Linked DNA regions of Homo sapiens. The protein of the gene in region 6 purifies or fractionates together with the protein of the main gene of each other region. This does not show direct contact. Each region holds a gene or a part of one and is shown on either strand. Other genes may lie near its edges. The genes, in order: BTAF1, ABCD1, XPR1, MTX1, RAB3B, SLC15A1 and ACSL4.

Region 1 (3,500 bases), on a different chromosome or scaffold from region 6:
TTAATCTTGGGGTTAGCTTAAACAGATGATCTTGTACTATCCCTTAAGTGAATGTAAATAAGGACACATCACTTCATCTATCTTCTCTCTAGCTGACAAGTTTCTTTGAGGTAGAGAGAAGGAGGAAAAAAAATGTCACTTAGGACTATCTCTAGAAACAGCACATATCCGTCTGTTCCTTATCCTCAACCCCAAAAAAGTGTTTTACTTTGGTCACAAAAATCTAGTTAGGTGTTGTAGGCCCCTGTAAATTTAATTATTGGGAAATGTTTATAATTGAGACAAACATGTCTAATAATTGCTTACTTGGTTAATGATAACATTATGAATTCTTAGATGGTGACTTTTAAATTCTTTTGTTAAAATTTTAAATGTATTATGATTTTTTCTGAAATTCTGTTTTTATCTAACATTTAATTTTAAGGCCCAGAAGCCTTACCTGGTACAACGGAGAGGAGCTGAATTTGCTTTGACAACTATAGTAAAGCATTTTGGTGGTGAAATGGCAGTGAAGTTGCCACATCTCTGGGATGCTATGGTTGGCCCATTGAGGAATACAATCGACATAAATAATTTTGGTATACACATATTTTTATGAGTCCAGTTTTTAACAAATTTTAATGTCTATTAATTGAATATATCCTTATAAAATAAAAATGCCTCTATGCCTCTACCTGTTTATTCCAGACCAGCTGGTAAGTTTTAAAATGGAAACTTGGTTTAAAAAAAACACACACCTTTATTTTATAAAAGAGATATTTGGGTTGGGCATGGTGGCTCATGCCTGTAATCCCAGCACTTTGGGAGGCCCAGGTGGGCAGATCACTTGAGGTCAGGAGTTTGAGACCAACCTGGCCAACATGGCAAAACCCCATCTCTAGCAAAAATACAAAAATTAGCTGGGCGTGTAGTCCCAGCTACTCTGGAGGCTGAGGCAGGAGGATTGCTTGAACCCTGGGGGTGGAGGTTGCAGTGAGCCGAGATTATGCCACTGCACTGCAGCCTGGATGACAGAGCGAGACTCTGTCTCAAAAAAAAAAAAAATTGTTTTTAAAGAGATACTTGAAATGGATCACTATGTTTAAGTTCTTTGGTTGCTCTACATGTAGTACCCCAGCACTTAAATTAAGGTCATGGCATTTAATTTTAACACTAAGAAGCAAAATTGACTCTCCTATGCTAGCTGAAAAAGTGCTAAAAGTTTTTGTGTGCTCTAGATTTTGAAAAATTATTTGCCAGATAATACAGACAATATATTTTAACAGATGGAAAATCCCTCCTGGATAAGGGAGATAGCCCTGCTCAAGAATTGGTGAATTCTCTGCAGGTTTTTGAAACAGCAGCAGCTTCAATGGATTCTGAGCTTCATCCCTTGGTAACTAACTAATGCAAGTGTAATATTTCTTCAAATAAAACAAGTGGTCTTATTAAAAAGTCTTAAGGTTTGAAAGGTACAGCTTTGATGTCATCCTTATTAATTGCATTTTTCTTTGCTGTGGTATAACTAGATTCCTCCTTTACTAACAGTGCAACTCCTGTGGGCTTTGATGTAGACCAGGCTGCTTGAATTTAATAGAAAACCCAACCTGGAAGCTTAGAATGTGGGGGCATTGAGGAAAGGACTCTGATGACACAGGAGCCAGATGTAAATAGGAAAGAAAACTGCAGCCCTGTTCATCCAGATGATCCTAATAATACAGCTCCAAGAAAGGAAAAGCATATATAATGAAATCTGTTTCCTAGATAAGTACAAAGGTGAAAGGAGTCACCTGCCTAAGGTGAAGCTGGTCAGTGGCAAAGATAGAACACTGGTTTGGGATTTTTTTAAAAAACTATTAAAATGTTTCTTACAAAAGAATTAGGACAGAGGGAGGAGGAAAATAGAGAATTATCTGGTTTTTTTCATAGAAGAATATTATTCTTTTCATATCTCTGCAATAGGAAGCTGTCTGCAATTTACCCCATTTTGAAGGGTATTAGCCCAGTTCTCTATTGTTATTTAACACAAAAGGGAGAATCTATGAGAGGGTGGAGAAGAATGGATTTTTTTTTTTGTACATAGTAATAAAGTATGTCCTTTTACTTGTTAAAAGTTTTGCTGATTTACTGTTAGTAAAGAAAAGTAGGCCGGGCGTGGTGGCTTACACCTGTAATCCCAGCACTTTGGGAGGCCGAGGTGGGTGAATCACGAGGTCAGGAGTTCAAGACCAGCCTGGCCAATATGGTGAAACCCCCATCTCTACTAAAAATACAAAAATTAGCCGGGCGTGATGGGACATGCCTGTAGTCCCAGGTACTTGGGAGGCTGAGGCAGGAGAATCACTGGAACCCGGGAGGCAGAGGTTGCAGTGAGCCAAGATCGCGCCACTGCACTCTAGCCTAGGCGACAGAGCGAGACTCAGTCTCAAAAAAAAAAAGAAGGAAAAAAAAAAGTAGAGTCCATCTGTACGCTCTTAATCTTCATAATTAGCAACATGCATTCAGCTGAACTGTAAGGCACATCAAACTGTTGAACAGATACCTGGCTCTCATCAGCATTAATTCTGGTGTTCCTTGTAGCAGACATTTAGTAAGGTGCTGTTGTGATGCTGTTGTGATTATAACACCTATGGTAAGCCAGGAAGCTACAGTGGACGATACCTACCAAAGTATGGTGCTAGAATAAAATCAGGAACACTCAAGCCACTGAATAAAAATTATGTACCTAAATCTAAATTAGTGCTACCAAATTTGGAGGGAGCTGGTGATGTGTGGTGCTGTTTTCCAGCTTCAGTAGGAGAATCTTGCCAAGTACTTTTTGGTTTGTTTCCTGTTAATTTTGGAAAGAATTGAGTGTTCCTATATGCCTAAGAGATGATATGAGCAGAGCAGAGGTTCTATACCTTTTTTTCCCTTCTTTTTGAAAGAGTTGTAATACATTAATTTGTATTTGGATTAGTTTTCTATTGAGAATGTTTTGGCAGTAATGTTTTGAAGTATTTGGAGATATTTTTAGAGTCACTTAGAATATTGAAAACTTTCCTGAGTATGGGCTATTATAGTTACATATTAAACAGTATTTCCTAATAATTCTAATTGCCATTAACTTTTTGTTTTTAGTTGGTCCAGCATTTGCCACATCTTTATATGTGCCTTCAATACCCCAGTACTGCAGTGAGGCACATGGCTGCTCGTTGTGTAGGTGTCATGAGCAAAATAGCTACCATGGAAACAATGAATATTTTTTTGGAGAAGGTTCTTCCGTGGCTGGGAGCAATTGATGACAGTGTCAAACAAGAGGGTGCAATTGAAGCACTTGCCTGTATCCTTTTTCATTTGACAAACTGTTCAGGAATTATATTCATTTCACTTAAGGATAATTAAAATGAAATTGATGTGTTCTAATATGCACATAAATAACCTGCCTTGTTCCAAAAAATACCTATTCTTTTTACATCTTATTTTGAAATATTTTTGTATTTTATTACAAATGTGTTACAAACTGATTTGCATTTTATGAT
Region 2 (3,500 bases), on a different chromosome or scaffold from region 6:
TAACTCCAGAATGTTTTATTTTTATTTTATCCCCCAAAGAAACCCCAGACCCATGAACAGTCACTCCTCATTCCCTCTCTCCAGCCCCTGGCACCCACTCATCTGCTTCCTGTCTCTGTGGATTTGCCTATCTGGACATGTCCTAGAAATGGAATCATGTGCTCTGTGGCATTTTGTGACTAGCTTCCTTCACTGAGCATCATGGTTTCAAGATTCGTCCATGTCATAAGATGAATCAGTCCTTCATTCCTTTTCATGGCTGAATAATATTCCATTGTGTGCATAGACCACAATTTCTTTATCCATTCATCCCTTGATGGACATTTTGGGTTTCTTCATGTTTTGGCTATTGTGAATAACACTGCTGTGAACATCCATGGACAAGTCTCTATGTGTGCAGATATTTTCGTTTCTCCTGGGTGTGTAGCTAGGAGTAGAATTGCCAGGTCACATGGTAACTGGACGTTTCACTTTTTGAGGAGCTGCGAGACTGTTCTCCACAGTGGCTGCCCCATTTTACCTTCCCGCCAGCAGTGTTGGAGGGTTCCACCTTTTCATCGTGGCTAGCACTGGTTATCATCTCCTTTGTATTCTAGCCACCTAGTGGGTGTGAGGCAGTATCTCTTGGTGGTTTTGATTTGCATTTCCCTGATGACTAATGACGCTGAGCCTCTTTTGATGTGTTGAGTGGCCATTTGTATGTCTTCTTTGGAGAAATGTCTGTTCACGTCCTTCGCCCATGTGTGATCGGGTTATCTCTGTCGCTGAGTTGTAAAAGCTCTTTGTATATTCTGGATACTGCACCCTCATCAGATGTGTGGTTCACCAGTCCAGAGTTTTCTCCCAGTCTGTAGGTTGTCTTTTTCACTGTCTCGATATTGTCCTTTGGTGCACAAAAGTGTTGAGTTGAATGAGGTTCAGTTGATCTGTTTTTCTCTTGTTGCTCATGCTTTTGGTGTCCTAGTGAAGGAACTATTGCCATATCCAAGGTCGTGAAGTTTTATCCCATTTTCTTCTGAGAGTTTCATACTTTGGGCCACACTACACATCAGCCTGTGATGTGCTCTGGGTTGGTTTGTCTGTATGGTGTGAGGGGTCCCTCTCCTGCACATAGAGAGAAAGAGAGAGAGAGCTGGTTGCCCCGGCACCATTTGCAGAAGAGCCTCGCCTTTCTCTCCAGCGGCTCATTTTTGACTTTCCGCTGTCTCTGCCCTGCCCCTCCCCGCCCCGCCACCCACCCCTCTGGGGCTTTGCAGATGCAGAGGCCGTGAAGAAGGCAGCCTTGGAAAAGAAGGAGGAGGAGCTGGTGAGCGAGCGCACAGAAGCCTTCACTATTGCCCGCAACCTCCTGACAGCGGCTGCAGATGCCATTGAGCGGATCATGTCGTCGTACAAGGAGGTACCCCTGGCCCAGCCCCACCCTTGCCATCCTTGCCATGCTTCTCTCCCTGCAACTGGCAGGGGCTGAGCCAGGGTCACCCTCCCTCAGGTGACGGAGCTGGCTGGCTACACAGCCCGGGTGCACGAGATGTTCCAGGTATTTGAAGATGTTCAGCGCTGTCACTTCAAGAGGCCCAGGGAGCTAGAGGACGCTCAGGCGGGGTCTGGGACCATAGGCCGGTCTGGTGTCCGTGTGGAGGGCCCCCTGAAGATCCGAGGTAAGGCTGTCCCCTCCCTATGAGTGACCCCGCCCCTGCTGCTGCTGCAGGTGCTGACCTGCTGCCCCAGCTCCTCCTATTCCCGCTCCCTCACTCAGGGACCTCCATGTGCTTCTGGCCCATCCCAGTCCACCCAGGACGGGAGGGCTGCCGGGCAGGGTCTTTGAGGACTTCGGCCTGGTCGAGCTGGGCCCCTGGAGGGTTTCCTGCAGAGAGGTGCTGGTCCGCCCGCCTTCCTTCCCAGACAGTAGCTGCCGGCCACCGTACTGACTCGCCCTTTGAGGGCCTCAGCCTGGATTATTCATTCAAAACAAGGGGGATGTGGTCCCCTCACCCATGCAGGACAGCAAGAGAAAGTTCCAGTCAGTGTGCCAGCTGCTGGCTGCCACGGGAGGCAGGTGCTGCAGAAGGGAGTGGCGGCCCAGGGCACTGTATTAGACACTGGGGGAAGAGTTCAGCTTGTTGGAAGACCTGGCTGTGTTCCCTAGGGACCCTGGACCACAGGCTGCTGGTCAGGAACCAGCTGGCATGCTGCCAGGGATGGGAATGAGGGCGTGCAGCCAGGGGCACGCAGACTCCCCAGAATGCAGAGGGGTCGCCACCACTCCCTCTCCACCCCAGCCCCGCTGTGCTGTCTCTGCAGGCCAGGTGGTGGATGTGGAACAGGGGATCATCTGCGAGAACATCCCCATCGTCACGCCCTCAGGAGAGGTGGTGGTGGCCAGCCTCAACATCAGGGTAGGTCCAGCGGGGAGGGCGCCAGCCACGCACATATGCAAGCCTCAGCCCTTGGCTTCCCGCCTGTCTGTGCTGGCAACAGCCATTGTCCCTAGATGTACGTGGCAGGTGGGCCAAGGTCAAGGTGAGAGACCAACGTGTCTCTGACTGTTCATCCTGGGGCAACAGAGGCAGGGCTCATAAAAGAGACTAGTGATACCAGGATTGACCAAGGTTCACCCCGGCGTTCCTGGCCCTATCATCTGATGCCAACTCCCCACACTCCTAAGAAAGCCAAGACCCGGGTGGGGGGGCTCTGGTTCAAACCTTGCCGCTCGACCTCCCTCGGAAGGCCACAGCAAGGAATCCACAGATCACCTGTGTCCCCAGCCAGGGGTTTGGACAGGGCTGGGGAGTAATGGAGTGAGGGGGAGACTGGGGTGGAGGGACAGGTAGAGAAGTGACAAGGAATCACTCATTCATTCACTCATTTAACCAATGTGCCCTGAACTCTGAGCCGGGCACCAGAAACCCGAGGTAAATCAGGAGACCTGCACTCAGGGAGTCTTCACTGTGGAGGGGCACTAAAGTGTTACAAAGGGTCTCCAGGTAGACAGCTGTTCAAGGGACAGTGGGGGTCACAAGAAGAGTGGTCAGAGTCCCTGGGGGTGGTGGGGGTGGGATGAAGCCTTGCCCAGGAGTTGCTGTGAGCGAGTGGGCAGGCAGCTGAGGGTAGAGGAGTGAGGGGCCGTGGGCCTGAGGGGCAGGTCACGCAGGAGGAAGCAGAGAGGAGGGGCATGCCAGGGAGGAGGGGGCCGGCACAGGTGGTTACCCCTCACCGCTCGCAGCGGCCCCTCCTAGGATGTCGGGGGAGCTGATCACCAGTGAGTCCAAGGAAGGTGGTTTCCAGGCTGGCCCCGGGCAGCACAAGCAGGCAGGGGCAGCGGGCAAGCTCATGGGGCCCCTGCGCGCAGGGCCACATATGCTCAGGGAGCCGGGTATGCGAGATGGGGCAAGGCCCAGGCCCCACCCTTCAGGAGGGGACAGTCAGGTGGCTTCATTAGCATCCTGTGGCTGCGGTCACAAAGCGTTACAAACTTTGAGTGGCTTTCCCAGCAGAGATGG
Region 3 (3,500 bases), on a different chromosome or scaffold from region 6:
GTTAATGGAATCTAATGGATTAGATACAGATAAATGTATTAATGCAGAGTATCTGAGTAATCATTAACAAGAACATTTAAATCCCTACTGACTCTTACAAAGAAACTTCATTCTTAAAATTTCAAAGCAATGTTTATACAGCAATGATAAGCCTTAACAAGATACAGCAGTAAGCAGAAGGCCAATATTCTTATATCAGGCTCTGCTATTAGCTAGTCATGAGACTCTGACCAGGTATCTTGGCATCTCTGCTCTCAATTTATTCATTTGTAAAACAGAGGGGTTGAGAAGGTCTCTTTCAACTCTAAAAAAGATTAAAAATTAAATTTTCACTAGAAAATTGAAAAGAACTAAAATCAGATACCCACTAAAAACTCAAGCAACTCACTTAAGCCATTCAGACATACTTAATAACACATGCAAATTTCACCTCAATTCTAAAAACAAATATACAGACACAGTCTATAACTGAGATGAACACAAGTTACAAGAGAACTAACTTACCTCACAGCCACATAATTGTTCTCACCTGGTTTTCTTACTCTGTACAAAAAGGTTAAGAGTGATTTATTAAGAAAAATATTAGCAAAAAATCAACAAAGCCATTTTCCATGAAAACCTAAACTGGACAAACCTGGAGGAACAAGCTTTGAGTCTCACTTTCCCAGTCAAAAATAATATTAGCCAAACATTATTTAGTATTGTTGAGCTCTGCAGAAGAAATAATTTTAATAGGAAATTTATTGCTGTTACTATGTGCCAGGTATTGTTCTAAACACTTTTCATATTTTTAACTCATTTAATCCTCACAACAATCCTGTAAGTACTATTATTATCCCTGTTTTACAGATGAGGAAACTGAAGCACAAAAAGGTTAACTGACTTGCCTGAAGTCACTCAACTAGTATGTTGGTGGAGCTGGAATATAAACTTAGGTAGACTGGCTTCAGAGTTTTTTTCTATGTGTTATTAATATACTAGCATATTATATAAACTAATGAGCAATAAAATGAATCAGGGTGATTGTGTTAACTCAGCTACAAACAAAACCATATAACCTGAATCACTTAACCTCTTTTCCCATTTGGGTAAAAAAGGAAGTTGAGCTAAATAAGCTTAAAAGTTCCTTACAAGTCTAACATTCCATGATTTATGATCCAGAAGCCAAACACCAAAACTGTAGCACAGCAAACAGCTGTCCACTTTTGTCCTCCTCTTTTTACCCTTATCACCTTATCTCCTTACCTTTTTCTTCTGATTTATCTTCGTAAGTTCCTTTATTTACCAGCTGGCTGTCCAGTAATAGTTACACTGATAACCTTGAGGGAAATATAATTTAACAGAGGTGAACACTATCCTACAGACCACACTCTACTATCTCCAAACTATGCAGACTAAGACCTGGGACTAAAAATAGACCCGCCATTACTTCACTGGGCTGTAGAAAGGTCAGCGGTGCCTAAGAACAGGTCAGACCAGGCCTAAATGTATGCATGTTTAAGTGGATGGATTTATTCATTTTTCATAAAACAGTACGCCATAGAAATTAAGAGCATGGGCTCTTACAATCTCCACAATTAGCTATCCACAATTACTATCAACATAATCAGTTACCTAATGGCTCCGAGATTCAGTCTCCACCATCTAGAAACGGAGCTAACAACCTACGCTATAAGAGGTGTTTTTAAAGAACTTACCACAGTGCCTGATACAGTAAGCGCTCAAAAAATAACAGCTGCTGTTATTGCCACTACTACCACCACTGCTGTTATTTACAATTTCCATATAAAAGCAACAGCTCCACAGTCTGATTTGATTTAATTTCAAATTCTGGTTCCATTTACTTACTAAGTATAGAGCCTTAAGCAAATTACTGATCTCTCTAAGCCTGGGTTTCCTCATCAGTAAAATGGAGATAATAAATCATCTATCTTACAAAACTACTGTGAACATTGAGATAACATATGTAAAACAGCTGACACCTGGTTCCTAACTGCTCAATAAATGTTAATTCCTTTCTCCTTAATGACAAGCTTACCACACTTCTGCTAATTCAATTTAAAGAAAGGAGAGTAGAATTAGGGATCACATGAGATCCAGGGAAGCCAACTTTCTTTTCTCTATTGTCCTTGCTGTAGGGCAGATACCAGACACTCCTCACCCAGGGAACTCCTTTATCCTCTTCCATGTTTGATAAGACTAGAGAACCTTTTTTCAGGCTATCTTCAAACTTCTAATACAGTATATGTATCGATGTACACTGGAATCCTCAATAACTGTTAAGAGTTTCAAGTGGTCCTGAAACCAAAAAGTTTGAGAGCCACTACTCTAAGGTATAAAAAAAGCCCACAAAGCACATGGATTACCCTATGAATTACGACTTTAACAAATTTAGCCTAGATAAGTAACTCACATAAAAATAACCTAAAAACTTCTCACTTTTCTCTATGATTAAATTTCAGTCCTTGAAAAAAATCACTTGTTCACTAGTTATTTACGAATAGTCAATGATAGAACTGGATTTTAGGATTTATATCTGGTTTCTGGTCCAAGGTCTTTCTAATACAGCAGGTCATCCTCAATTAATAAAAGATGACTATGTTTTCTTAATCAATATATTAAGCCTCTTGTTATAGAGATTATGAAAATTTTAAGTTATGTTTACAGTAGATTAATTATATTTTCCTTTGACTCCCTAGCAAATAAACAATTTTTAAAGGGTGTTTTTTTTTTTCAGACAGTGTCTCACTCTGTCACCCAGGCTGGAGTGCAGTGGTGCTATCTCAGCTCACTGCAACCTCCGCCTCCTGGGTTCAAGCAAGTCTTGTGCCTCAGCCTCCCAAGTAGCAGGCACACGCCACCACACCCAGCTAATTTTTGTATTTTTAGTAGAAATGGGGTTTCACCATGTTGGCCAGGCTGGTCTCGAACTCCTGATCTCAGGCGATCTGCCTGCCTTGGCCTCCCAAAGTACTGGGATTACAGGTGTGAGCCACCATGCCCAGCCTAATTTTTAAAACATTTTCTGATCAGTCCCTATACATACCACACTTGCTTGGTGATGGGAAGAAATAGGTGACTAAATATCAGTCTGAGTAAACAACTAAGACTTTAAAGGAATATAACTTAAGTTACAAAAGTAATCCAAATTTATACAGAAGTATAAAGTAGTACAAGATTTATTTGTATTACAAAAGTAATACAAATTTATACAAAAGTAATACAAATTTATATCCATGTTCCAAGTCCTCAATCTTCAGTCTTCCCTTTCTACACCACTTTTTAATTTTAAAAATACTATGTTGACTGAAATACAAAACCAAATACACACATACACACAAATTTGGGGTGTGTGTGTTTTGGTTTTTTTCTGTTATTTTTAAGGTACTGAAAGCTAGCATTTAATGACAAATCAGCCTATAGCAAAGGAAGACTTCTATAAATTTGTGGAATGAACGAATGATTTGTAAGGTATTTGTTCATGAGCTTTCTCTGCTGGC
Region 4 (2,629 bases), on a different chromosome or scaffold from region 6:
GAGTGTGAGGATGGCTTTCTCTGGTTCCTGAGGCATGGACCGAGTCCTAGCCTGCATCTGAGCTCCGTTGTGCTAGCTTTGTGGTGTCTGGGTCGGGGAAGTTACTGTTAGAAAGTTGCCGTCAGCGGGCGTTGTTCCAGCTTTCCATGGAAATTCTGGGAGCTGCTCCTAGTTTGCGGCGGAGCCTTCCTTCCTTCCCTGCATTGGGCGCTGGACCTTCACGGCCAGGAGGCTCCAAGGCCCAGGCTTTTCGCCAACAGCAACAGGCTACTGGCTGGGCCCAGGCAAGGGGGCCTTGGCAGGAAAAGTTCCTTGCTGTACCTCCACTGCACTCAGAGGCCAGTGAGGGGGGTACCAGACAGGACTCCTTCCTCCCTGGTGAAGTGCCCTTGCAGCTCCCTAGTGTCCACGCCATGGATATTTCCTCCACAGAAGTACAATGCTGATTATGATCTGTCAGCTCGGCAAGGGGCAGACACCCTGGCCTTCATGTCTCTCCTGGAGGAGAAGTTGCTCCCGGTGCTGGTGAGTGTGCCCAGACCTCCCAGCATCCATGGCCAGCCGGGGAGGGTTCGGGAACACACAGACCCACACACAGGCTCAGGAAAGCATGGGGGTCAGAAGCCCACCTTGAATCAGACAGGTGCACTGGCTCAGACCTACCTGTTTCTTCCTGCCCACCCAATCCAGGTACATACTTTTTGGATAGACACCAAGAACTACGTGGAAGTGACCCGGAAGTGGTATGCAGAGGCTATGCCCTTTCCCCTCAACTTCTTCCTGCCTGGCCGCATGCAGCGGCAGTACATGGAACGGCTACAGCTGCTGACTGGGGAGCACAGGCCTGAGGACGAGGAAGAGCTGGAGAAGGAGGTAGCTCTGAGACCGGGGGCTATTGTATGAGATGAGCCCCAAGGATGCTGGCCAGGAATGGGAGTGCTTAGGTGGGGAGGTGGCACTGTTCCCACAGCTGCAAGCCTACCTGTGTCGCCCCTACAGCTGTACCGAGAGGCTCGGGAGTGTCTGACCCTGCTCTCTCAGCGCCTGGGCTCTCAAAAGTTCTTCTTTGGAGATGCGTGAGTCTGACTCCAAGAGGGTAATGGGTGGCTTGGAAGAAGATACAGGTTCAGATGGAGCAGCTGGAGCTGGGGCTGGGGCTGGGGCTGGCTCAGGCTCTGGATAGGAGGTCCCTGGGATAGAAACTGGCCCTAGTGACAGTGTGACTGTGTGGGGGCCAGAGCCTTCTCAGAGGTACAAAAGGGTAGGGTGGGAGGGCAGCCAGGCACAGGAGGGGCCTGAAGAGCTGTGGGGCACTGAATGTGCCCTTTATGCAGCCCTGGGATAGAGCCCTATTCAGGGCCAGGCTGGCGCCACCTGGGGATCTCTCCCCATACCAGGTCTAGAACTGTGTGTCCTGTCCTTCCCTGGTGGCCGCCTGCTGCCCAGAGCCCACCTCCCAAGGCTGACTCTTCCTCCAGCTCCATCTTTACCCCTTCTACCCCAGTGGTTCTCCTCCATCCCACCCTTCTCTCTCTGCTCCAGCCCTGCCTCCTTGGACGCCTTCGTCTTCAGCTACTTGGCCCTGCTGCTGCAGGCAAAGCTGCCCAGTGGGAAGCTGCAGGTCCACCTGCGTGGGCTGCACAACCTCTGTGCCTATTGTACCCACATTCTCAGTCTCTACTTCCCCTGGGATGGAGGTAAGGGGCAGATGGGAGGGGCAGCCCTGGGGAGAGTGGGCAGGGATCCAAGAACTAGTTCTCCTAACACACCTTCCTTCCTTGACCCTCAGCTGAGGTACCACCGCAACGCCAGACACCAGCAGGCCCAGAGACTGAGGAGGAGCCATACCGGCGCCGGAACCAGATCCTATCTGTGCTGGCAGGACTGGCAGCCATGGTGGGCTACGCCTTGCTCAGCGGCATTGTCTCCATCCAGCGGGCAACGCCTGCTCGGGCCCCAGGCACCCGGACCCTGGGCATGGCTGAGGAGGATGAAGAGGAATGATTTGTCCTCACGCTCCCAAGACTGGTTTTTCTACTCTCATGCATTCCAGAGGCCCCCGTGCCTCCTCGTTGTTGGTACAGCCGGACACGGGGTGCTGCCACCCAGAATAAAGCCACTCACACTGACTGGGCTCAAACATTTTCTCCTTTAAGAGCTGCCATTTTTCCTGGCTGGTGCCATAGGAATCATCTGGGTGCCTGGGCACACCCGCTGCTGCTTTAAGGCTTCCGCCCTGATGCTGACACTGCTGCTCCACGGGCCCAGTTCTGCATCTCCAGGAAAGACAAACAGTCTCCAGTTTTGGGCCCAGCTTTCCTAGTCTCTTCTTTTCCTTACCCTCAGCCCTGATCTTGTGTTTGTACGGACAGTGAGCTCACCCTAGGCCTGGACCCAGGCCCAGTTTCCAAAGCAAGCAGCACACAGCGCATGTTCACATAAGCATGGGGGCTGGGGGGACACTGGGGCTTACTGATCTTTTTCTAGGGGCCTCCAGCCCCTGGCACCACCTAGAGGGGAAAGTGAGTCACCCAAACCATTGCCCCTGGGCTTACGTCGCTGTAAGCTCACACTGGCCCTGCTGTGCCCTCTTTAGTCACAGACAGCGTGTGAGCTGACTCTGTCCCTT
Region 5 (3,500 bases), on a different chromosome or scaffold from region 6:
TGTGCAATTCACAGCAAAGTAGTCAGGAATCGATCTCATGAAGCCCGCAAGGACCAAACACCCCCACCCTGATTTAGACCTGTAGGTGCTGCCCCACGACCCCCACCAAAGCCCATGTAAGGAGCTGAGTCCTTAAAGACTGAAGATGGACTATTTCCTGGAGAAAAATAAAATGGAAATTGTACTTTAAAAAAAAGCCATCTATTTTAATACTATGTTTTATTTGTTAATTTAAAAGGTAATACATACTTACGGAAAATAATTCAAGCATATCCTATTTGCAAGTATTACCTTTTTTACCAGCTGTAGCTCAATTATTATTATTTTTATTTTATTTTATTTTATTTTGAGACAGGGTCTCTCTCTGTCGCCCAGGCTGGAGTGCAATGGCACTATCTTGGCTCACTACAGTCTTGATCTCCTGGGCTCAAGCAATCCTCTTACCTCAGCCTCCCGAGTAGCTGGGACTACAGGCATGTGCCACCATGCTCAGCTAATTTTTGTACTTTTTGTAGAGATGGGGTTTCACCATGCTGTCCAGGCTGGTCTTAAACCGGGATCAAGTGATCTGCCCTCCGTGGCCTCCCAAAGTGCTAGAATTACAGGCGAGAGCCACCACACCCAGCTGCATTATTTTCTTAATTCCTAGCATAAAATACAAGTAATATGAAACCTAAAGGTTTACACTGAAAAGTAAGTCTTGCTTCCATCTCTGATTCCTGATCCAGTTCCCCTCCCCAGAGGCATACATGTTATCAATTTATATATCCTTCAGAGATAGCCCTTGCATATATAAGCAAAGAGACCTATTTATACTTTTTATTTCTATATAAATAACATACCATGCATTCTAGTCTATACCTTCTATGCATATTGTAATAGCTGACATCATATGTACAAGGTATAGGCTAGAATATATGGTATGTTATCATTTAGCAAATCACTTAAATTTTAAAAGTACAATCATGAACTGCATAACAACATTTCAGTCAATGACAGACCACATGTACAATGGCGGTCCCATAAGATTATAATGGAGCTGAAAAATTCCTATTGCCTAGTGACATAGTAGCCATGGTAACATTGTAGCACAACACATTACTCACATATTTGTGTTGATGCTGGTGTAAACAAACCTACTGCATTGCCAGTTGTATAAAAGTATAGCACATATGATTATGTGCTATACATAATACTTGATATTGATAATAAATGACTATGTTACTGGCTTCTGTATTTACTTACTACACTTTTTATTGTTATTTTAGAGTGTACTTTTTCTATTTATATTTAATATTTTTTAAAAAGTTAACAGTAAAACAGCCTCAGGCAGGTCCTTCAGGAGGTATTCCAGAAGAAGATATTGCCATAAGAGATGACAGCTCCATGCCTATTATTGCCCCTGAAGACCTTCCAGTGGGACAAGACATGGAAATGGAAGGCAGTGATATTGATGCTCCTGGACCCTGTGTAGGCCTAAGCTCAGGTGTGTGTATTTGTGTCTTCCTTTTTAACAAAATAATTTTAAACATAAATTTAAAAACTAAGGAAGAAAAGAAAGAAAAGGCCAGGTTCAGTGGCTCATACCTATAATCCCAACACTTTGGGAGGCCAAGGTGGGAGGATCGCTCAAGCCAAGGAGTTTGAGGCTGCAGTGACCCATGATTGCACCACTGCATTCCAATCCAGGTGACACACTGAGCCTTCATCTCAAAAAAGGCCATACGGTGTATTTGTGCTTTAAGTTAAGTGTTGTTATAAAAGAGTCTATGGCTGGGCATGGTGGCTCAGACCTGTAACCCCAGACTTTGGGAGGCCGAGGCAGGCAGATCACTTAAGGTCAGGAGTTCAAGACCAGCCTAGCCAACATGGTGAAACCTCATCTCTACTAAAAATACAAAAATTAGCCAGGCGTGGTGGTGCGCACCTGTAATCCCAGCTACTCAGGAGGCTGAGGCACAAGAATTGCTTGAACTCGGGAGGTGGAGGTTGCAGTGAGCAGAGATCCACTGCACTCCAGCCTGGGTGACAGAGCAAGACTCAATCTCAAAAAAATAATAATAATAATAATAAATAAAAAATAAAAGAGTCTAAGAAGTTTTAAAAATTTTTTAAGTTTATAAGGTTTAAAAGTTATAGTAAGCCAAAGTTAATTTATTATTGGAGAAACATATTTTTAAATAAATTTAGTGTAGCCTAAGTGTAGAGTGTTTATAAAGTCTCCTATAGTGTATGGTAATGTCCTAGGCCTTCACATTCACTCACCACTCACTCACTGACTCCCCCAGAGCAACTGCCGGCCCTGCAAGCTCCATTCATGGTTAAGTGTCTTATATAGGTGTACCATTTTTTATCTCTTATACCATATTATGCCTGGGTGCAGTGGCTCACACCTGTAATCCCAGCACTTTGGGAGGCCAAGGTGGGTGGATCACTTGAGGTCAGGAGATAGAGACCAGCCTGGCCAACATGATGAAACTCCATCCCTATTAAAATACAAAAAATTAGCCAGGCATGGTGGCAGATACCTGTAATCCCAGCTACTCGGGAGGCTGAGGTTGCAGTGAGCTGAGATTGCACCACTGCATTCCAGCTTGGGTGATAGAGCCAGACTTGGTCTCAAAAAAAAAAACCATCATATTTTTACTGTACCTTTTCTATGTTTAGATGTGTTTAGCTACACAAATACTTACCACTGTGTTACAATTGCCTGCTACATTCAATACAGTAACATGCTGTACAGGTTTGCAGCCTAGGAGCAATAGGCTATCTATTCCATATAGACTATGTGTATAGTAAGCTATACCATATACCATATAGGTTTGTGTAAGTATACTCTATGATGTTCATACAACTATGAAATCGGCTAATGACACATCCCTCAGAACATATCCTTGTCATTAGCAATGCAAGACTGTACTTAAATACTACAAAAATTTAGTAGTACCAAAAGTACTACAAAAATATGAGATTTTGAGGCCAGGTGCCGTGGCTCAGGCCCATAATCCCAGGACTTTGTGAGGCCGAGGCAGGCGGATCATTTGAGCTCAGGAGTTTAAGATCAGCCTGGCCAACATGGTGAAATCCAGTCTCTACTAAAAATATAAAAATTAGCCAGGTGTGGTGGCGCACACCTGTAATTCCAGCTAGTCAGGAGGCTGAAGCACAAAAATTGCTTGAACCCAGGAGGCGGAGGCTGCAGTGAGTCAAGATTGCACAACTACACTCCAGTCTGGGTGACAGAGCAAGACACTGTCTCAAAAAAAAAGAAAAGAAAGTAAGGGCTGGGCGCGGTGGCTCATGCCTGTAATCCCAGCACTTTGGGAGGCTGAGGCGGGTGAATCACGAGGTCAGGAGTTCGAGACCAGTCTGGCCAACATGGTGAAACCCCATCTCTACTAAAAATACAAAAAATTCGCTGGGCGTGGTGGTGGCTGCCTGTAATCCCAGCTACTCTGGAGGCTGAGGCAGGAGAATCACTTGAACCTGGCAGGCGGAGG
Region 6 (3,500 bases):
GACTTTCATCAGATGCTTGGTCTTCCAGCCAGCAGAATCATCAACCAAATATACCTTTTTCCTTTATAAATTCCCCAGCCTCAGGTATTCCTTTATAGCAACACAAGTGGACTAAGACAGCCCACGTCATTCCTTTGGCCTGGAAGAGCCTCTACTTCCTTCTTCATTAAGTCCCAGGAAAACTTTCCTGACAACATCCCACTGGGTGTGCTCGTGGAGCCCTTCCTGGAGGGCTGGGTGACTTCTCTCTTTAGTGACCTCACACCATGTGACCTCAAGCAGCGTGAGCCCCTCAGCAGCCAAGGGGGTATTTTAGAGAGTTTCTTCATATCCCCAGACCTTAACTCCATGCCTCACACATCACTAATAATAGACAGTATCCCTGCTACTGTGTCAAGATGTGACAAAGATGCTACATTTGTTTGCATTAGGGAAAAACAAAAACCTATAGATGCTGCTTGCAGTCACTAAATGTCAGGCACTGTTTCAGGCTCTAGGGACAGGATACTGAGCAGAAACAGCGCTGTAAATGCTCTCCTAAGGGTTTGTTTCTGTTTTTAATTTGTTTTTGAGACAGGGTCTTGTTCTGTCATCCAGGCTGGGGTGCAGTGATGTGATCACAGCTCACTGCAGCCTTGACCTCTGGGGCTCAAGCGGATCCTCCCACCTCAGCCTCCCAGCTAGCTGGGGCCACAGGTGTATGCCACTATGCCTTGCTAATTTCTTTATTTTTGGTAGAGATGGGTCTCACTATGTTGCCCAGGCTGGTTTCAAACTCCTGCCTCAGCCTCTCAAAGTGCTGGGATTACAGGTATGAACCATACCACACCTGGCCTCTCCTAAGAGTTTCTGTTCTTTGATTCATCATTCCCAGATTCCACCATTCCCAACTACAAAACCTACATTTACTTTTTCGCTTGTTTGTGAACAAGAAATTTCCAGCCACTCACTTGAACTTTCCCAGCCACGAGTCGGCGATAAGAGCTCCGAGAATTGGCGTCAGGTAGCACAGAGCCACAAACGTATGGTAGATGGCGGTGGACAGGTTATCATCCCAGCTGATGAAATTTGTGAAGTACAGAATCAGGATTGCTTTTGCAGAGGGCAGGTGGAAGAGGAGGGGGAAACAAAGTTAGGACTGGTTATGGCCACTCCCGCTCTTCCCTGAAGGGTGAGAAACGGCCAATACAGTTACCTCGCATTCCATAGTAGGAAAATCTTTCGCAAAACTCATTGACCACGATGAAGAAGATGCTCAGGGGATAACCAAAGAAACTCTGACAAAAAAGAAACAAGCACAGGATTGAAATACACCCCCCACTGGTCCATAGCCACAAAGGAGCACCAGTGGCATGAAAGGCAGCCAACGCAGATTCAGTAACTTACCGGTGACTGTCTAGAGCAGGAAACTAGCATTTAATCATTTTATTCCCTACACTAATCCTTCCACATAGAGACAGCAATGAAATAAAGCATCCAGTGGTATTGTTAGTCTGAGGAGGATTATCCACAGCATTTCCTCAGGAGAGGACATCTCACATGGAAATCCGGGATCATACCCTCACTGGTTCCAGATGTACAGATCTGTTAGGTGAATGAACCCTTAGGGGTAAAACAGATGATAAAATTTACAAGATGAAGATATGTAGAGAAGGAAAAAGGGTACTCACGTGTGATTTGGACATTCCTAAAAGAAAAACAGAATCCCAATATTAAAGTCAAGCCATTACAATAGTTTTTGCTGTGTCTAAACTCAGAGCCTCTGACTTTTTAGGGTGGTCAGAGGGGCCATTCACCAAACAGCTCCAGCCCTCCCTGGGATCCCGGCCCCAGACTCATGCTTCTTATCTGAGGTGGGGCCTGGCATCTGTATTTTCTTTTAAGAAGCTCCTCAGGCAATTCTCGTATGCAGTCAAAATTGAGAAGCAGCAGCTCAGAGAATCAGGCCTAAACCATTTCCTCCTGAAACACTTCAAAGGCCGCCCATCGGGATAAAATCCACACATTCTAGCATGTTCTTCAATATCTGACAAGTGTTTTGGTGGGGATGAAATTTCTGTAATATAAAATGCTTCTGAGTGCCTGACACACTGTGCACACTCAACCGCCACCTCCTATGGCTTGGGCCCTGCCTGCCAGGCTCACCCCATGATTTAAGTCTTGCCACCGATATTCCCTTCCCAAATCATCTCTGATGTGCCTACATCACCATACTGTAATGATGGGCAGTTTATATTTTTGCTTCCCTTCTGGACCAGGTTCTGAAAGCAGAAGAATCATGTGCCATCCATCACACCAACATCCCCACTTTCAACGTCCTGTACAATACCTACCACTGGTAGGGGGTTATGTCACAAGAATGAATGAGAAGAGCAGGAAGAAACAGCCTGAGAATACAAGGGAGCTGGTGCACGTCAAGTCCAGTGGACTCTCCCATGTGCATCCTAGGAGCGCCTCATCCCCATCCCGTCAGCACCTGCTCTTCTGTCTCCCCGGAATTTTGGCAAGAGCTGAGCTGTGCCCTTGTCTCTAGTCTTTACACCTCCTCACTCTGCTCCTACACAAACACATTGCCCTGTGTTCATCCGTGTCTATCACATACTACCCTGTTTCCCACAGGACATCCATCCCCTTCCCCCTCACTCACCCCGATTTCCTTATATTAGAGTTCTTTGTTGCCAGGGCTCCCTGAACATGCTCCACCTCCATTAGGAATCTAGGAATCGGTGACCCCATAGCAGTGGGTCTCACACTGGAGTGTGCCTCAGAATCACCAGAGGGCTTGCAAGAACAGATGGCTGGGCCCCATTCCTGGAGTTGTTGATTCTGTAGGCCTGAGATGGACACTTGAGCTTGCATTTCTAACAAGCTCCCAGGTGTGGGTGCTGCCACTGGTCCAGGCAGTGTGCTTTGGGAATCACTACACTGGAAAATTATTCTTTAGACTGTTCTTTTCCCAGTGTTTGTTCTTGGCAGCTTTGTCAAAAATGAGTTGGCTATAAATGGATGCATTTATTCCTGGGTTCTCTTTTCTGTTCCATTGGTCTATGTGTCTGTTTCCATGCTGATTTGGTTACTACAGCTTTGTAGTATATTTTGACATCAGGTGGTACCTCTGGCCCTATTCTTTTTGCTCAGGATGACTTTGGCTTTTCGAGGCCTTTTGTTGTTGTATATGAATTTTAGGATTTTTTTCTATTTCTATGAAAGTTGTCGTTGGATCTTGTCATTTGCAGCAATACAGATGAAACTGGAGGACATCAGGTTAAGTGAAATAAGCCAGGCACAGAAAGATAGATATCACATATTCTCACTCATATGTAGGAGCTAAAAAATTGATCTCATGGAGGTAGTAGTGGGTAGAATGGTGGTTACCAGAGGATGGGAAGGGTAGGTGAAGGTGGGAGGATGAAGCAAGGTTAGTGGATACAAAAACACAGTTCTGTAGAAGGAATAAGAGCTGGTGTTTGGTAGCACAACACGGTGACTACAGTTAACAA
Region 7 (3,500 bases), on a different chromosome or scaffold from region 6:
TAAGGTCCAGCTTAAATCTAATCTCCACAAAGCCTCTCCTAGTTACTCTTGGCCATTTTGCACTTCCTCTGAACTCCTTTTGCATTTATTGCTTATACTACTGCCTACACTGCACATGGTAGTTATGTATTAGTTATGTATTACCACAAGGCTTTTCAGTGGAAATGCTTTAGTGGTCACCTTGGGAGTTGGGATTCCGGGAATTCTGGGGCAGGACTCTGGACATCCCCAAACCCTGTTTTGGCCAGAGCAACTCCACTTTAGTGTTATATATGGGCAGTTTCCAGTAGTGTTTATTAGAAGAGATGGTTTAATTGCACCCCCTGTCCCCGTTCCCCCAAACAGTTGCAAAAATACTGGATCTATCTTGTGTGATAGTTGACTCATAAGTGTTAACTTATAATGGCCAAGGGCCAGGAATTAATACTACTTCAGACTTGTATTACCACTCCTAGGCAACTGGTGCAGTTTTGAGCACAAAGTGGACATGTAGGAAATGATTTTACAATTGTATTGCTCCCATGTGGGAAATAGTAGATAGTAAATAGCATTACCTGAGAAATTTACCTTAATGAAGAACTCAGAATAAGGTTTCTGGGTTGACCTTTGAGAAATAAATCTAAGTTGATAGTTTCTGCCCCACCCCCCCCTTTGGATATAAACCTAACACTATTTAAAGATGTCTAGTTTACATGCACATGTTTAAGAGAAATCTTATTATTGGCATACCCTATTCTACCAAAGTTTTGACAAACTTAAATATCATATTCATGCATTTGTGTAAGCATTAAGGTTGTTATTCAACTCACAGAATGATATGCAGAGTACCAGTACACCTAGAAACCTAGAAAAAAATAAATTCAGAAGTTGATGTGCTCAAAGACATTTACGTCAATAATGATTACAAATGGAAAATGCCAGCCTTTCAGACCAGTTATTTCAGCTTTCTGTAATTAATTGTGTAAACTAATAAAGACCTGAGTATTTAAATCAATTGTGCTATCAACTTGTTAATATTCTTTTGTTTTTGTTTTTTGTTTTTTGTTTTTATTTTTCCTGCTCTCTGCTTGGTTCATTGTCATCACCTACAGGCGTACTTTATTGTCGGCTTCCAAAGATTACTAACTTTTATCTGTATCACTAAGATTGAACTGCCTTGGCTGTACTGCTATTCTTACTGCTGCTTCTATTATTGCCTTCTTCAGCACAATAAGGCTTTCAAAAGCCAAAGAATAACAAGAAATAAGCACCATTTTAGAAGCCTTTCCACTATGAAACTTAAGCTAAATGTGCTCACCATTATTTTGCTGCCTGTCCACTTGTTAATAACAATATACAGTGCCCTTATATTTATTCCATGGTATTTTCTTACCAATGCCAAGAAGAAAAACGCTATGGCAAAGAGAATAAAAGCTAAGCCCACTTCAGACAAACCTGGAAGTCCATATCGCTCTGTCACACACTTCGACTCACTAGCTGTAATAGACATCCCTGGAGCAGATACTCTGGATAAATTATTTGACCATGCTGTATCCAAGTTTGGGAAGAAGGACAGCCTTGGGACCAGGGAAATCCTAAGTGAAGAAAATGAAATGCAGCCAAATGGAAAAGTTTTTAAGAAGGTAAAGTATTTTGGTGCTTTTCATTTATGTTTTAAAGAGGAAGACACATTTGTTTTATCATAAATCGAGTGCGTTTTAAGTATGCTGGCATTCTATTATAGTGCTGTGTAAAACTACTCAGAAGCCGCTCATAGCTTCTGTATGTTCATTTAAGAGCATTTTTAGAGTTTTATGCTTTGGATAGTATTTTAATTGCTTGTTTGAATATACTAATATTAGAGAATGTATCACTTTAACAGTTAATTCTTGGGAATTATAAATGGATGAACTATCTTGAAGTGAATCGCAGAGTGAATAACTTTGGTAGTGGACTCACTGCACTGGGACTAAAACCAAAGAACACCATTGCCATCTTCTGTGAGACCAGGGCCGAATGGATGATTGCAGCACAGACCTGCTTTAAGTACAACTTTCCTCGTAAGTGCCTTGTGTTTTTGGAGGGGGGAGAGGAGGGTCTTTGCTTGCATGTGAGAATTGTTTTGAGATGCTCTTGTTTTCACAGTAGGTGTTGTTTAGCCATTTTACACATTAATTATGTCCATAATACGGCATGTAATATTGTGGCTAAAAGATATCCGATGACTCCTGTTAAGTATGGTAACTTGTAAGAACTAATATGGGAATTGGCAGCTTTAAGGGATGTGATTTACACTTTTATTTTCCAATTGGAAATGAATTGTAACTGAAAGAGTTGGAGTTTGGGGGTATTTTGGGGGGGTGATATACAAAGAGTAATGATTAAAAGAACAAAAAACCATTTCTCAGGATAATTCAAATTCATTGCTTCACTTTGAGACCTCTTATTTGACTTATTCTATTTTACGTGTGAAATATGCATGTGACAGCTGGAATTGGCATTAGATATGTTAGAAAGTAAAATTGAGTATATTTCTAATACTCAAGCATTTGTTGTTGCCATTGTTTAAGAAATAAACAATGTATTGTCACATACTAAGTACTCTGTTGTTTGTTGAATGAAATATAACACTGTAAGTTAGGATTATAGAGCTTAAATTTCAAACAAAAAATAGATAATATGAAAATGATCCCCTATGTACCCATTACCCACTTTCAACGATGAACAGCTTGTGAAAGTGGCTATTTTTAACCACATTGTTTCTGGTTACCAATCTAGAGCTGAATTTTCAGTTCTTTCTAAGTTTAGCAGATGTCCTTTGATTCTAACTGATCTTGGTTTATGTTATCTCTGGTGGCTCCTAAGGAGTAGATCTCCTTGATCTCTCTAATTAAGGTGTGGAGGTCACCAATCACATTGGACATTGGACTCACTAAAACAGCTTCTTAGAAGGAGTAAGAACATTATCTGTGGCTGATCTTATGACTTAAGATCCTCAAGATTTTCAAGGACTTATCCATTCTTTGGAGGCTATGGCCAATGAAAGTGTGTATCAAGAAGAAGCCCTAGCTGGGCCAGTCTGACCTGAATTAAGAGTTCAGCCAGTACCTATTGGCCTTGAGCATCTAAATTGACAGATTTTTGATCAGCTGTGGCAGTGCGAGTGTTTCTGGGTTTCTTCAGGTTTAGGAAGTGAGAGTTCTGGGAATTTGTAAGGAAAACTTTGGGCTCCCAGGGAGTTTGAAGCAAGGTTGAAGGATGGTAACAGAGACTATGAAATCAAATTAAAATATACAATGTCTTTGTGTCTCTAAGTGTAACTATTATTAAAGACTGACTTCAATAATATCCATTTCTAATAGATGTTTATTACTTAATATTTGTGTTTATTTTTATTATGTAGTTGTGACTTTATATGCCACACTTGGCAAAGAAGCAGTAGTTCATGGGCTAAATGAATCTGAGGCTTCCTATCTGATTACCAGTGTTGAACTTCTGGAAAGTAAACTTAAGGTAAATAT

What was found.
Region 1: the proteins of SLC15A1 (region 6) and BTAF1 purify together in Homo sapiens (affinity purification with mass spectrometry; 2 studies listed by BioGRID and IntAct, with this or other methods). This does not show direct contact.
Region 2: the proteins of SLC15A1 (region 6) and ABCD1 purify together in Homo sapiens (affinity purification with mass spectrometry; 2 studies listed by BioGRID and IntAct, with this or other methods). This does not show direct contact.
Region 3: the proteins of SLC15A1 (region 6) and XPR1 purify together in Homo sapiens (affinity purification with mass spectrometry; 2 studies listed by BioGRID and IntAct, with this or other methods). This does not show direct contact.
Region 4: the proteins of SLC15A1 (region 6) and MTX1 purify together in Homo sapiens (affinity purification with mass spectrometry; 2 studies listed by BioGRID and IntAct, with this or other methods). This does not show direct contact.
Region 5: the proteins of SLC15A1 (region 6) and RAB3B purify together in Homo sapiens (affinity purification with mass spectrometry; 2 studies listed by BioGRID and IntAct, with this or other methods). This does not show direct contact.
Region 7: the proteins of SLC15A1 (region 6) and ACSL4 purify together in Homo sapiens (affinity purification with mass spectrometry; 2 studies listed by BioGRID and IntAct, with this or other methods). This does not show direct contact.

The regions. Positions count from the first base shown.
Region 1 is NC_000010.11:91,993,270-91,996,769, forward strand, and holds part of BTAF1 (TATA-binding protein-associated factor 172), read left to right. Parts: intron 1-424; coding exon 425-578; intron 579-1,265; coding exon 1,266-1,375; exon of another isoform or gene 1,376-1,388; intron 1,389-3,099; coding exon 3,100-3,301; intron 3,302-3,500. UniProt on the Homo sapiens protein: Regulates transcription in association with TATA binding protein (TBP). Removes TBP from the TATA box in an ATP-dependent manner.
Region 2 is NC_000023.11:153,734,856-153,738,355, forward strand, and holds part of ABCD1 (ATP-binding cassette sub-family D member 1), read left to right. Parts: exon of another isoform or gene 1-1,256; coding exon 1,257-1,399; exon of another isoform or gene 1,400-1,489; coding exon 1,490-1,658; exon of another isoform or gene 1,659-1,756; coding exon of another isoform or gene 1,757-2,056; exon of another isoform or gene 2,057-2,301; coding exon 2,302-2,396; exon of another isoform or gene 2,397-3,500. UniProt on the Homo sapiens protein: ATP-dependent transporter of the ATP-binding cassette (ABC) family involved in the transport of very long chain fatty acid (VLCFA)-CoA from the cytosol to the peroxisome lumen.
Region 3 is NC_000001.11:180,638,522-180,642,021, reverse strand, and holds part of XPR1 (solute carrier family 53 member 1), read right to left. Parts: intron 1-3,500. UniProt on the Homo sapiens protein: Inorganic ion transporter that mediates phosphate ion export across plasma membrane.
Region 4 is NC_000001.11:155,211,695-155,214,323, forward strand, and holds the end of MTX1 (metaxin-1), read left to right. Parts: intron 1-432; coding exon 433-525; intron 526-690; coding exon 691-873; intron 874-999; coding exon 1,000-1,076; intron 1,077-1,542; coding exon 1,543-1,697; intron 1,698-1,789; coding exon 1,790-2,004; 3' UTR 2,005-2,129; downstream 2,130-2,629. UniProt on the Homo sapiens protein: Involved in transport of proteins into the mitochondrion. Essential for embryonic development.
Region 5 is NC_000001.11:51,980,701-51,984,200, forward strand, and holds part of RAB3B (ras-related protein Rab-3B), read right to left. Parts: intron 188-3,500; exon of another isoform or gene 1-187. UniProt on the Homo sapiens protein: The small GTPases Rab are key regulators of intracellular membrane trafficking, from the formation of transport vesicles to their fusion with membranes.
Region 6 is NC_000013.11:98,725,173-98,728,672, forward strand, and holds part of SLC15A1 (solute carrier family 15 member 1), read right to left. Parts: intron 1,688-3,500; coding exon 1,671-1,687; intron 1,278-1,670; coding exon 1,196-1,277; intron 1,093-1,195; coding exon 951-1,092; intron 1-950. UniProt on the Homo sapiens protein: Electrogenic proton-coupled amino-acid transporter that transports oligopeptides of 2 to 4 amino acids with a preference for dipeptides. Transports neutral and monovalently charged peptides with a proton to peptide stoichiometry of 1:1 or 2:1.
Region 7 is NC_000023.11:109,681,258-109,684,757, reverse strand, and holds part of ACSL4 (long-chain-fatty-acid--CoA ligase 4), read left to right. Parts: intron 1-1,091; exon of another isoform or gene 1,092-1,271; coding exon of another isoform or gene 1,272-1,394; coding exon 1,395-1,622; intron 1,623-1,861; coding exon 1,862-2,039; intron 2,040-3,382; coding exon 3,383-3,492; intron 3,493-3,500. UniProt on the Homo sapiens protein: Catalyzes the conversion of long-chain fatty acids to their active form acyl-CoA for both synthesis of cellular lipids, and degradation via beta-oxidation. Preferentially activates arachidonate and eicosapentaenoate as substrates.